Linked DNA regions of Homo sapiens: region 2 is linked to region 1. A link means that fine-mapping ties the variant in region 1 to the expression of a gene that starts in the linked region. Tissue or cell type: whole blood. Region 1 holds a variant in brackets; the other region holds the start of a gene. All regions are shown on one strand. Distances are from middle to middle.

Region 1 (5,389 bases):
AGACACCCCACCATAGGGCTACGGAACCAGTTGGGAGAAGGAAAGAGGCATTGGCAGCACCTAGGATACTCACCAATCCAGACACCCTGCAGCAGGGCTACAGACAGACACCTCACCATGGGGCTACAGACACCCTGTGATAGGGCTACAGTTAAGGGACATCTCCCCATGACTATTTCTGCATTGCAATTAAATCCATGCACATTGGGTCGGCAGCACCCTGCCAGTAGAGAGAGTACCAGAGTCAGCTCCCAGTCCAAGAGAAGTAGGTGGCAGCTTGGGCTGGCTTCTGGATCCATCCCAGCACAGGTTTTTATCTTAAAAGTTTGTTTTGAGATGTAATTAACATATCATAAAATTTACTTATTTGAACTATACAATTCAATGATTTTTAGTAAATTCACACAGTTGTGCAGCTCTCACCACCATCCAGCTTTAGGATATTTCCAGCACCCTGCAAAGGCCTCCCATGCCCATTTGTAACTCCCACCCTAATGCCGAGGAACTACTAATCTACTTCCTGCTTCCATAGATGTACCTTTTTTGAATAGCTCATGTAAATGGAATCATGTGTGAATCCCGAAGGCCCTACTTGAGAGTGAAACAGTGCTTTTCCTTGACTCTGATTCTACTTTTGATAAGAAACTTCTCTGTCTGTTTGGGGGCTCAAGGATGATTTTAAGGCTCAGGCTGTCAGTGGCTTTTTAAGTCCAGGCTTATGTGGAACCCTACCCAAAGTTCTTTCACAAACGTAACTATTATCCGTTATTTCTTTCCTTGCTTCCTCAGCTTCATGCCTCTCTCACATGCACCCAATTTGATGCCAGCATCCCTGAAGTCATATGGTTTGGGAGAAAAAGCTACACCTTTAATTGTATTTCCTATTGTTTGGAATCTAGAAACGTTGGTGTTTCAATCTCTTTGATGCCCCAGATTTCTTCTCTCTCTGTATTTATTTTCATTTCTGCTTGGAACCTGTCAAGCTATTTACTGATTCATTTTTTTTTTTCTTCTAATACCTTCCTAATGGAAGCCAGTAACCACCAACACATATCACAAAATTCTGTTTTCCAGTCTCTTTCCCTAGAGCTACAGGCTCAATGAGTACCCGGCTGCATTTATGCTATTTCTGGTGACAGTTTTAACACACATTTTATTTTATGTACTTCTTTTTTAACTTTTATTTTAGGTTTGGGGGTACATGTGCAAGTTCGTTATATAGGTAAACCCATGTCACGGGATTTGCTGTACAGATTAATTCATCACCCAGGTATTAAGCCCAGTACCCAATAGTTATCTTTTCTGCTCCTCTCCCTCTTCCCACTCTCCACCCTCAAGTAGACCCTGGTGTCTGTTGCTTCCTTCGTTGTGTCCATGAGTTCTTATCCTTTAGCTCCCACTTGTAAGTGAGAACATGTGGTATTTGGTTTTCTGTTTAGCTCCATTCATGTTCCCACAAAAGACTATGAGCTCGTACTTTTCTATGGCTGCATGGTATTCCATGGTGTGTATGTACCACATTTTCTTTAACCAATCTGTCATTGATGGGCATTTAGGTTGACTCTATGTCTTTGCTATCACGAATTGTTAACACATATTTTACCACTGTATTACATGAGTCTCCATCTTCCTATCCTCTGATATTAATGTCCTCACTACCCAATGCTGATTCCACATATTTTAGGTTTTTATTACAGAGTAGTACCTAAGTTTCAATGGTAATATCTCTATTAGTTAAGATTATGCTAGCACTAAAATGTCTAAACCCCCAAATCTCAATATCTTAACATTTTATTGGAATTTTATTTCTCAATCTGATATCAATTCAAGCCAGTGGGAATGAAGGGTATTCTGCCCCACATTTCTTCAGAAACAGCCTGACAAATGCTCTGCTGTCTTTCTCAAATGCCTCAAGCTCACCCTGCACTGACACACCATCAGCAAATAAGGAAAGAGAGAGCCTTGAGAATTGTGTAAGAGGTCATTTTGGGCCAGACCTGGAAGCATTGTGCATGATTGTATCACTTCTGCCACATTCCTTTGGGAAGAATTCATTCTCATGTCCTTACCTCACTGCCAGGGAGGCTGAGAAATGTAGCCTATCTCTGTACTCAGAAGGAAAATCAAGCAAGTTTGGCAAACAGCTAGCCAGTATTTACCATAGCTTCATGTTAAACATTTAGCCTTTGACTCAATAATTCCAATTCTAAAGATCTTTGCTAAAAAATATTCTGAAATACAAACATGTTAATTCTTAGGTCATGTAAAGTCACAAAAATAAATATATAAATAAATAGAACACTAAATATAGAGTTCATTTATGTAATGGAATATTACACAGCAATTAAAATTTATGTTTCTCACCAGGTATGGTGGCTCACACCTGTAATCCCAGCACTTTGGGAGGCCAAGGCAGACAGATCACCTGAGGTCAGGAGTTCGAGACCAGCCTGGCCAACATGGTGAAACCCCATCTCTACTAAACAAATACAAAAATTAGCAGGGTGTGATGGC[G/A]TGTGCCTATAGTCCCAGCTACTTGGGAGGCTGAGGCGTGAGAATCGCTTGAACCCGGGAGGCAGAGGTTGCAGTGAGCCAAGATCATGCCACTGCACTCTTCACTCCAGCCTGGGTGACAGAGCGAGACTCTGCTCAAAAAAAAATTACGTTTATTAAAAATTTTAATCACATAGGAAAATGTTGCTGATGTAACATTAAGAAAAACGCCGGAAACAAATTTATACATATAATATGTATATATTTTTAAATAGAGCAGTAAAATTATTGGAAGGAAATATGCCAGAATGATGACACCTATAATCACCTATAATCTCACCTATAATGTATGGTAGGAGTACAGATTTGTCTGTTTTTTGTGTGTGATTCTTATGATCCAAATTCCTTACAATGTAGTGCCATTATAATCAGAGAGAAAATAAATATTATTCTAAAACATAATAAATTTATAGCCAGATCTATGCCTTCTAGTACTCTAACCATCTCAAATGTCAATATCTTTAATAACGAATTCAGCAAAGTAACATAATAATAAAGTAACATATCTTTAAATAGAAGTCAATATTATTGTTATTTAATCACATGCTTCAGAAAAATACTTTGAGATGGATAAAGCTAATACAATTTCCTCAGAGATGACAGTACTTTAGGAATGCAATTTTGACTTTTATTTCCCTACTATATGCCTTCTGTGTTTTATGTTTTAATTTCATTTACAAAAAATCCACAACTATTTCTGAAAATATCTTCTAATAGTCTCTCTCTCTCCCTCTCTCTCTGCAATATACAGCCTGTCAAAGTACACTTCTCCAGCTGCTGGCAGATGGCCTTTATCACTCATCAAGGTTTTTAGCAGAAGTTTATTTTGTGTATGTCCATCAACTTCTGTACTTGGGACAAACAGACAAAAAAGACCAAAATCACCAGATTATTACCACATTGTTTCTCAGAATATAGAATGGATGGTGGCCACATTTCATGAACAGTTTCTATCAGCACTTATTTTCAATCTTAGACTCTTCATAACCAGATATTCCCAAATCCCTTATACTTACCTGAAATGAAGCTATTATTCTCACCTATGTATCAGTACTGTGAATCTATCGATTATCAGTATTTAAGTTAAGAGCTGTTGATTTTTCTGATCACATTTGAGGGTTCCGTGTATGTTAGAATGAGTGATGCTCATCTTTTTCGGCCGTTGTGGAAATAGGACTACTTACCCAAATTTTTGGCCAATTAACCTCCATGACTCATTATGCATACCCATTCAAATGTGCTCCCATGGGACTTGTGTGTGTGTAAGTGTGTGTGCATGTGTAATATACATATATACACATAAGACATTGTGAAAATAAATCAGGGGATAGTATATAAAATGGTGTGTTCATGCTTTTTAAATAAAGTACTTTGCACTTAATTTTTTTCTATTTAAAAATGAATTCATATCATTCTGTTGCCTCACTCATATTCTAGTATTTAGATTGTTTTCTATTGTGTTTTATTTATTTTTTCTTTTATTTCAGAAAAGGAAAAACTTTAAAATCCAGATATCTTATTAAATATCTTTTTTACTATTTCCATTTATGAATATATTTTTTGTTTCTGACAATGCTTAATGTACAATGGGTAACTATGAATAGTAAAAGTTGTATGGAACTACTAACACAATTCTGAAATCTAATCTTTAATATTTTGCCAGGGATTATGTAGAAACTTATAATTATGTTTTACTTTGGATTTACCCCATCTTTACTTTATCTCACATTAAAATGTAATCAAAATCAGCCTGTTTCCAATCGGTTGCAAATCCCCTTCTTAAAGCACCTATTCAAAAGTTTCCCCAATTTTCATTTTCTCTGTATTTTCTTATTATATTAAATCCTGATATCTGAAAATTGAACCATATAGTAGCATTGCCATATTCCTTTAAAAATACAGATCATATCTATTCTTCCTGTATTTTCCAATTATAACTGTGGTTTTTTTAATCCTTGACAGGTTGCAATTAGATTTCTAGTATGCCATTGTATTACAGTAAATACCATTATTATGGTAGAAATAATTCACTTTGTTTAGTGCACTGTTCAGATAGTCTGCTGAGATGACTCTGATACCAAATGTCATTTTCATTCTTTAATTATAATTTTTAATCTTTTCTAGTTTACCATTCTTTCAGTAGATTAATTATTTTTATTCTAAACTTCAGAAATTGTCTGAGTTTAATAATGTTTATTAATAAGAATTATAATATCCTATTGCTTTTATTCCACCCCCGCCCCCAGAACAGTAGGAGTAATTTTCTTATTCTCCAACTCTCTGACCTGTAATATACTGGAACATTGTGTGGAAGAACAACCCTCAGATGCATTTAGTAGTTGAATGCATTTCTGAGCATAGTTGTTATTGCATTCCAAATAGTAGTTACCACCTGAAAAGTCACTCCATCAGGAACAGAGTTTCCTTTGTCTGGGGCTGTTGTTTATATACACAGTGTAAAATTAGGCCAAATTCTGACATCACAAACAAAATTTAAAGCATGTATATATTAAACACATCCATAATAAGATTAGATGCCCTGTGAGGACAGGGACAATGTCTATCATACTTAATCATTAAATCCCTAGGACATACTACAATGCACTGGCACATAGTAGGTGCTCATTAAAGGTGAGTTGGCTGAGTAAGCGTGCACATGAATGACCCTCATCGGATTATGTGTTCAGTTGTTGTCTCTGTTGCTGCATGCATGGATACATCTTTATCTAAAAAGTTCAATTCAATCTAAGCAAATCAGTATGAGTGAGCAATGCAGTACAATGGAAGAGGATGTAACTCTACAATCTGATTAGAGCTAATTCTCCTTCTATTTCTC
Region 2 (5,389 bases), 97 kb before region 1:
ACTTACTATACAGTTCTCTTTACTTTAATTAAAGGGTTATTTATTAAAGACACCATTCACCACTCTTAAGTTATACAAAGAGTGGCTTAGGATACAGTGCATTAACATTTCACCTTACTAAAATAAAAATTAACCCATATTTTGAGAAAAAATTTGGTTACAATTAAAATATTTAACATTCACTTTAAGAAATGAGAACACTGAGGTAAGTTTTCAGGGTATTCTGATAAACATGTTGATATTTGAACCATTATTTAGATGTTAGGTATGTTTTTCTTCAAAAGCTACTTTTCTTAGATTCAACCAGAATTTAAGGGCCTTAGAATGAGCCAGACTCCAAGCTGAGTGTGTTGTTTTGGTAAATAAGGTATAATTATTCCCATTTCACAGAAGAGGAAGCTGAAGTATGAGGTGTAGTAACTTCTCAAGGTCATACTGAAGTAGTAAATAGAGTTTCTATAGTTTTTAATTTTCGTTTAAATTGTACTCCCAGGTAATTGTTCCCCTTAAAATTCTATAGTACCTAACTAATAAGTTTAATTTTCCAATAATTTTTTTGATGGAAACACCTATGACTGTCACTACAGAACATGAAATACTTGAAATAAGATGCCGTTTTTAGCGTAAAAAATACTTTCAATCATTGGGTGAAAAATATTTGGGGAGCCAAAAACTCCAATTATACTAATCAATCCTCACCATACTTCCCTAAGAAGGAATTCTCTTTTGTTTTTTAAAGATGTGGAAGTTTAAATTACTGTCATGAGTCAGTGTATGAGAAGAAAATGTCTAAGTCCTGACTCTCACTTCCTGCTTTGATGACACTTTACCTCACTTCCTGAAGATGTTGTAAGCCTGCAAGGTAACACCAAGGAGCTCTAAGCTCCTACTCTCAGTGCTTTCCAATACTTCTAAGATTCTACTTATTAGGCCAACATCAATCTCCACCACTTTCCCTGCAGTTAATGATAAATTATTACAATTTTATTGATCTCAAAAGCTTCCAAATTCTGTTTTTAAGATCCTTTTCTGCCCTTTTATCTTCCTAAGATAAAAATTTGGTAAATTTCTAAAAGCAATCTATTTTTTAAAAAAAAAGTTCTAGTATTTTTTAAAGCCACCTATCCGCCAACTGACTCTTTTGGATGAAGGTATTGTAGATGCCTTTCTGCCAAACATTTTCTGTGTATCCCTTTGGTTTTTGCGCAACATCCACCTTACAGCAGAAGACACAAGAAATCATTTTGGAGAATGAGCCTTCCAGATACTGTAAAGTTTCCCTCTTTTTCCAAGTACAAATTTGACATATCACAGAATATGCTAAATCCTTTACCTATAATTTTCATTTATGTCCACATTTCTAAATAACATATGTAAAATACTGGCCAGGATTTCAAGTCATTAAAAATGGAGAAGGGGTGGGAAACAACTGAGTGGCAACTACACTAGAGAAAACAACTTATAAAAAAGAAAAAATATGGACTATACCAGTCTCCTAAAAAGACTCACTGACTCAGAATAGAACTAAAAATCTATGCCGGGCGTGGTGGCTCACGCCTGTAATCCCAGCACTTTGGGAGGTTGGGGCGCGCGGATCACTTGAGGTCAGGAGTTGGAGACCAGCCTGGGCAACACTCTGAAACCCCGTCTCTGCTAAAAATACAAAACTTAGCTGGGCGTGGTGGCACACGCCTGTAGTCCCAGCTACTTGGGAGGCTGAGGCACGAGAATCTCTTGAACCCGCGAGGCGGAGGCTGCAGTGAGGAGAGATCACGCCACTGCACTCCAGCTTGGCGACAGAGCGAGACTCGGTCCCAAAAAATAATAATAATTAAAAATCTACTTAACCTGTAAACCGGGGTAGAGGCGCGGATTTCCCAGCTGAAACCGACTGCCTTTCACTGCAAAGGTCTGTTACATCCCAGCGCTGCCCACCACCCAAAGTTAACACCAAAGGAGTTCAAAACTCCTCAAGAGTGGCCCACAGAAAAGGCGGGGGACTTCAGGGCTTGCCAAGATCCCAGGAGCCGGCCAATCCCGATTCTGCAGACTGTTAGGTCCCCCGACTTTTTTGCACACCTACCCTCTGGTCAACCGAATAATATCCCCTGGCTGTATAAGACCTCCGATCTCATCCCACACGGAAATAGTGATGCTGCCCGTTTTATCTGCTACTTTGCACGATCTCACTTCATGGCCGTCTTTGGTTTTGGTCACGCGTCCTGTGAGGATTTAAAAATCAAAGGGAGGGGTTGTTAGATAATGAGGACATCCAGAAAGGCTAACTCCTCCTCCGGTATTTTAATACATCTGGAAGGTGGGAAGTGACCAAGCCCAGGGCTCCCGCCTCAGGTAGGATCCGATCTCGGGCGGAGGCCACTAGAGCCACGTGGGTGGGGGAGGGGAGGGAGGAGGAGGGGAGCCCCGGGCGCGCAGCGGCCGGCGCCCCTGTCTCCCGCCCCGGGAGGCACAGCGGGCGGTGGAGTAGGCTGCAAACCCCACTTACCTATCTCCAGGACAATAAAGACGACATTTAAGTTTTTCAGTCCGGGCTTAATATCTCTTATAAAAATAAGTGGGTCGTTGACCCTATTCATATTGGGACAGGCGCGGCTACGGCTGCGGAGACGCGAGTGGGCAGGGCGGGGTCAAAGCTTCCCACCCTCCCGGGACAGGGGCGAAGGCAGAGGGGCGACCTTGGGCAGGGGTGGCGAGAGAAGGGGCAGAAAGCCGTTAGTCAGGGACCGGGCAAACCAGCCCGGACAGCACTGAGCCTAAAAAAAGAAAAAAAAAAAAAAAAAAAAAAAAGGCTCACAAGTTCTAAAGAAAAAAAGGCGAACCACTCCGCACACCAACCCCGCTCCCAACCGGGCGACAGGAAGGCAAGCGTACTAACTGCCCCGTTCTTTGGATAAAAGGAAAAAAAAACGCAGTGAGGGGACACTTCTGCCCTGAGTCCCGCTCACTCACACGGGCGCGCGCCCAGCCTGTCCCGGGCTCCGGGAAGGAACGGGCTGTGACAGCGAAACGGGAGCGGAGACAGAACACCGCACACCCAGCGTCCCAAACAGCGACTGATGAACACGCCCGCGCGCCGGCAGGACCCTCGGCCCGCCCCTCCCCTTGTGAAGTCACGCTGCGTCGGCACGCCTGCTGCCACGCCCGCCTGGTGCTGGGGAGGGGAAGCAAAGGGGCGGGACCCGGCCGCCGCAGCCCGCAGAGCTTCCCTCGCTCCTCCCCGGGGGCTGTCAGCGCGGGCTCCGCCCCCTCGTCCTTCCAATCGCTCTCGGCCCCGCCTCCCCCGCCCTCCCGTTCTCCACCCACTTCAGCTGTCGCCGCGCAGCAGCAGTTCTGTTCGGTTTCGCCTTCCTGCTGTGCAGTCTTTTGACGCTTGCTGTCCAACTTTGGAGTTTTCTTGCCTTTTTTTCTCTCAGAGTTGAGCCCCTGCCCGGGCCCTTTAGTCCCTCGGTCACGAGGAACGGTAGAGTTTAGAACCTGTGAGTACGTTAGAAAGTTCGCAGTCGAGGAAGAACAGGGTTCGGGCAAGGGCAGCTGGTCCGGTACCAAGGGAAAACAGGCTGGGATGGTGAAGGCGTCAGTGGCTACAAGGCTGGAAGTTTAGCACCAGAAGGGAATTTGGAGATCAATTCAACCGCCTCATTTCAGGCATACTTAAATTGAAACCCAGAAAGATGAGGTAATTTGCAGAAGGTCACCCAGCAACCCCTGAGCAGGCAGGACTGCAACACAAATGTCTGACGTGGGCTTCCACTGTGTAATGCTAAGCAGATAGGACGTAAATTCCTTTGCAGACTTCTCATTTTTCCTTACCCCCTGCCTCTCATATTACACACCTTCCCCATTTAGCTTTTCTTCTTTTACTTTGCACTTGCTTTTGTACATCTAAAAGGAATTAATTATTCAACAGCAGTGGGAACCCTTGAAACATAATCTGGAAAAAAAGATTAATAAAGTTTTTTTTATGTCGCGTAGTGAAAAGAGCATGTGCTTTAGAGACAAACCTGGGCTCCAGCTATTTACTTGTGAGAGCTTTAGGTCAATTGGCTTTTATTACAGCTTTTTAACCATAATAAAATGGGGATCCCTGCCTAGCAGAAGATTGATTAAATGGATCATAAATTGTCCAACTAGTGCCTAGCAAATAGTACATACTCAGTATTTTCCCCTTTTTAATCCCCGTTTTACAGGCGATGGAACTCACCAGAGACCAGATAGCTAGAGAATGGCTGAGCTGGGTTTTAAATCTAGTCAATCTTGACCCCAGAGCTCTCCAGCCTAAAGGTAATGTTTAGACTTAACTTCCAGTGGTGTCATTATAAGAGTCAAAAACAGACTGAAGAAATAAAATAGCAGAATAAAGTAGTGGGGCATTAAAGAATCATCTAGTTAATTCTTGGTGATGATAACAGAAATGTTGGGAAAAGTGTCAGAAGCCTTAATTTTCTCCCCATTCTTTCTGAGTATCTTTAGATCAACCACCACTTCCCAAGTATTTGCAAACAAGCAGCATAGATATTATAGCCCTAGAAAGAGTTGGAAACATTATCACAACATTAGCAAGAGAGTCAAGGCATTTTTAAGGAAACAGAAGCTTCCATTTCATGAACTAATAAAGCCCAAGGTGCCAAAGACACTGATGTCATACTGGAAAGTGGTGTAAAATAAAATTATAAGCATAATTTCAACATCAAATAAAACAAATGATGAAACATGCCAGTTAATGGCAGAGCCAGCGTCCAACCTCAATCCCAATCCAGCTCAGAAGCTCTAATTCTACCATGGTTATCTGGCAGGACTTGACACTTCAATTGGATTGTACTCAAAGCTGTATTTTCTTAAACAGGCAAAATATTCTCACAGAAGCAATATTTAAGGCAGAGCTCTTTTTTTTTTTTTTTAAGGTTTGACAAGATCTTCAAAAGATTAAGAATAGACAGGAAACCAATTAAGAATGTTAAGAGTTACGGCCAAGAGTTTGGGCAAAGAAAGTTTGCCACTCAACTCTCAATCATTTGCCCCCAGAAAAGGGATTAGGTTGGGCTGTTCAGGCTAATTATATGAACATTTTATAAAAAGAAATCAGACACAGAAAATCAAGCCCCACAAAAGCAGAAGCTGGTACTCCAAGCTGTGGCTCAGCCCTTCCCTTCCCCCACAGGACAGAACTCAGCTGAACATCTACTTCCTTCCCTACTAACTCAGCAGTTCTCAGAAAGGAAATGGCAACCATATGCTTTCTCATTAACCAAAACGAAAGGCAGCCTTGAGAAACAAGATGGTCTGGGCAATACAGAAACTGTTCAGCCCAGGCTAGTTGGTTTCAGCTACCTCTAAATCACTCCCAAAGATGTGGTTAATAAAAAGAAAA

The links.
Region 2: NABP1 starts here. The variant in region 1 is fine-mapped to the expression of NABP1 in whole blood (INTERVAL, PIP 0.91).

What each region holds. Positions count from the first base shown.
Region 1 is chr2:191,579,167-191,584,555 of GRCh38, reverse strand. No RefSeq gene overlaps it. Among named protein-coding and RNA genes, the nearest start is that of NABP1, 96 kb to the left of the region's middle. The variant G/A (reference allele first, on the strand shown) is at 2,515.
Region 2 is chr2:191,675,823-191,681,211 of GRCh38, reverse strand. NABP1 (nucleic acid binding protein 1) reads right to left here and starts at 3,076. Exons shown (of 6, transcript NM_001031716.5): 1 at 2,507-3,076; 2 at 2,084-2,222. The coding sequence starts at 2,597. RefSeq lists enhancers at 706-1,905, 2,733-3,235, 3,445-3,524, 5,118-5,227 and silencers at 2,375-2,434, 3,035-3,384, 5,175-5,389.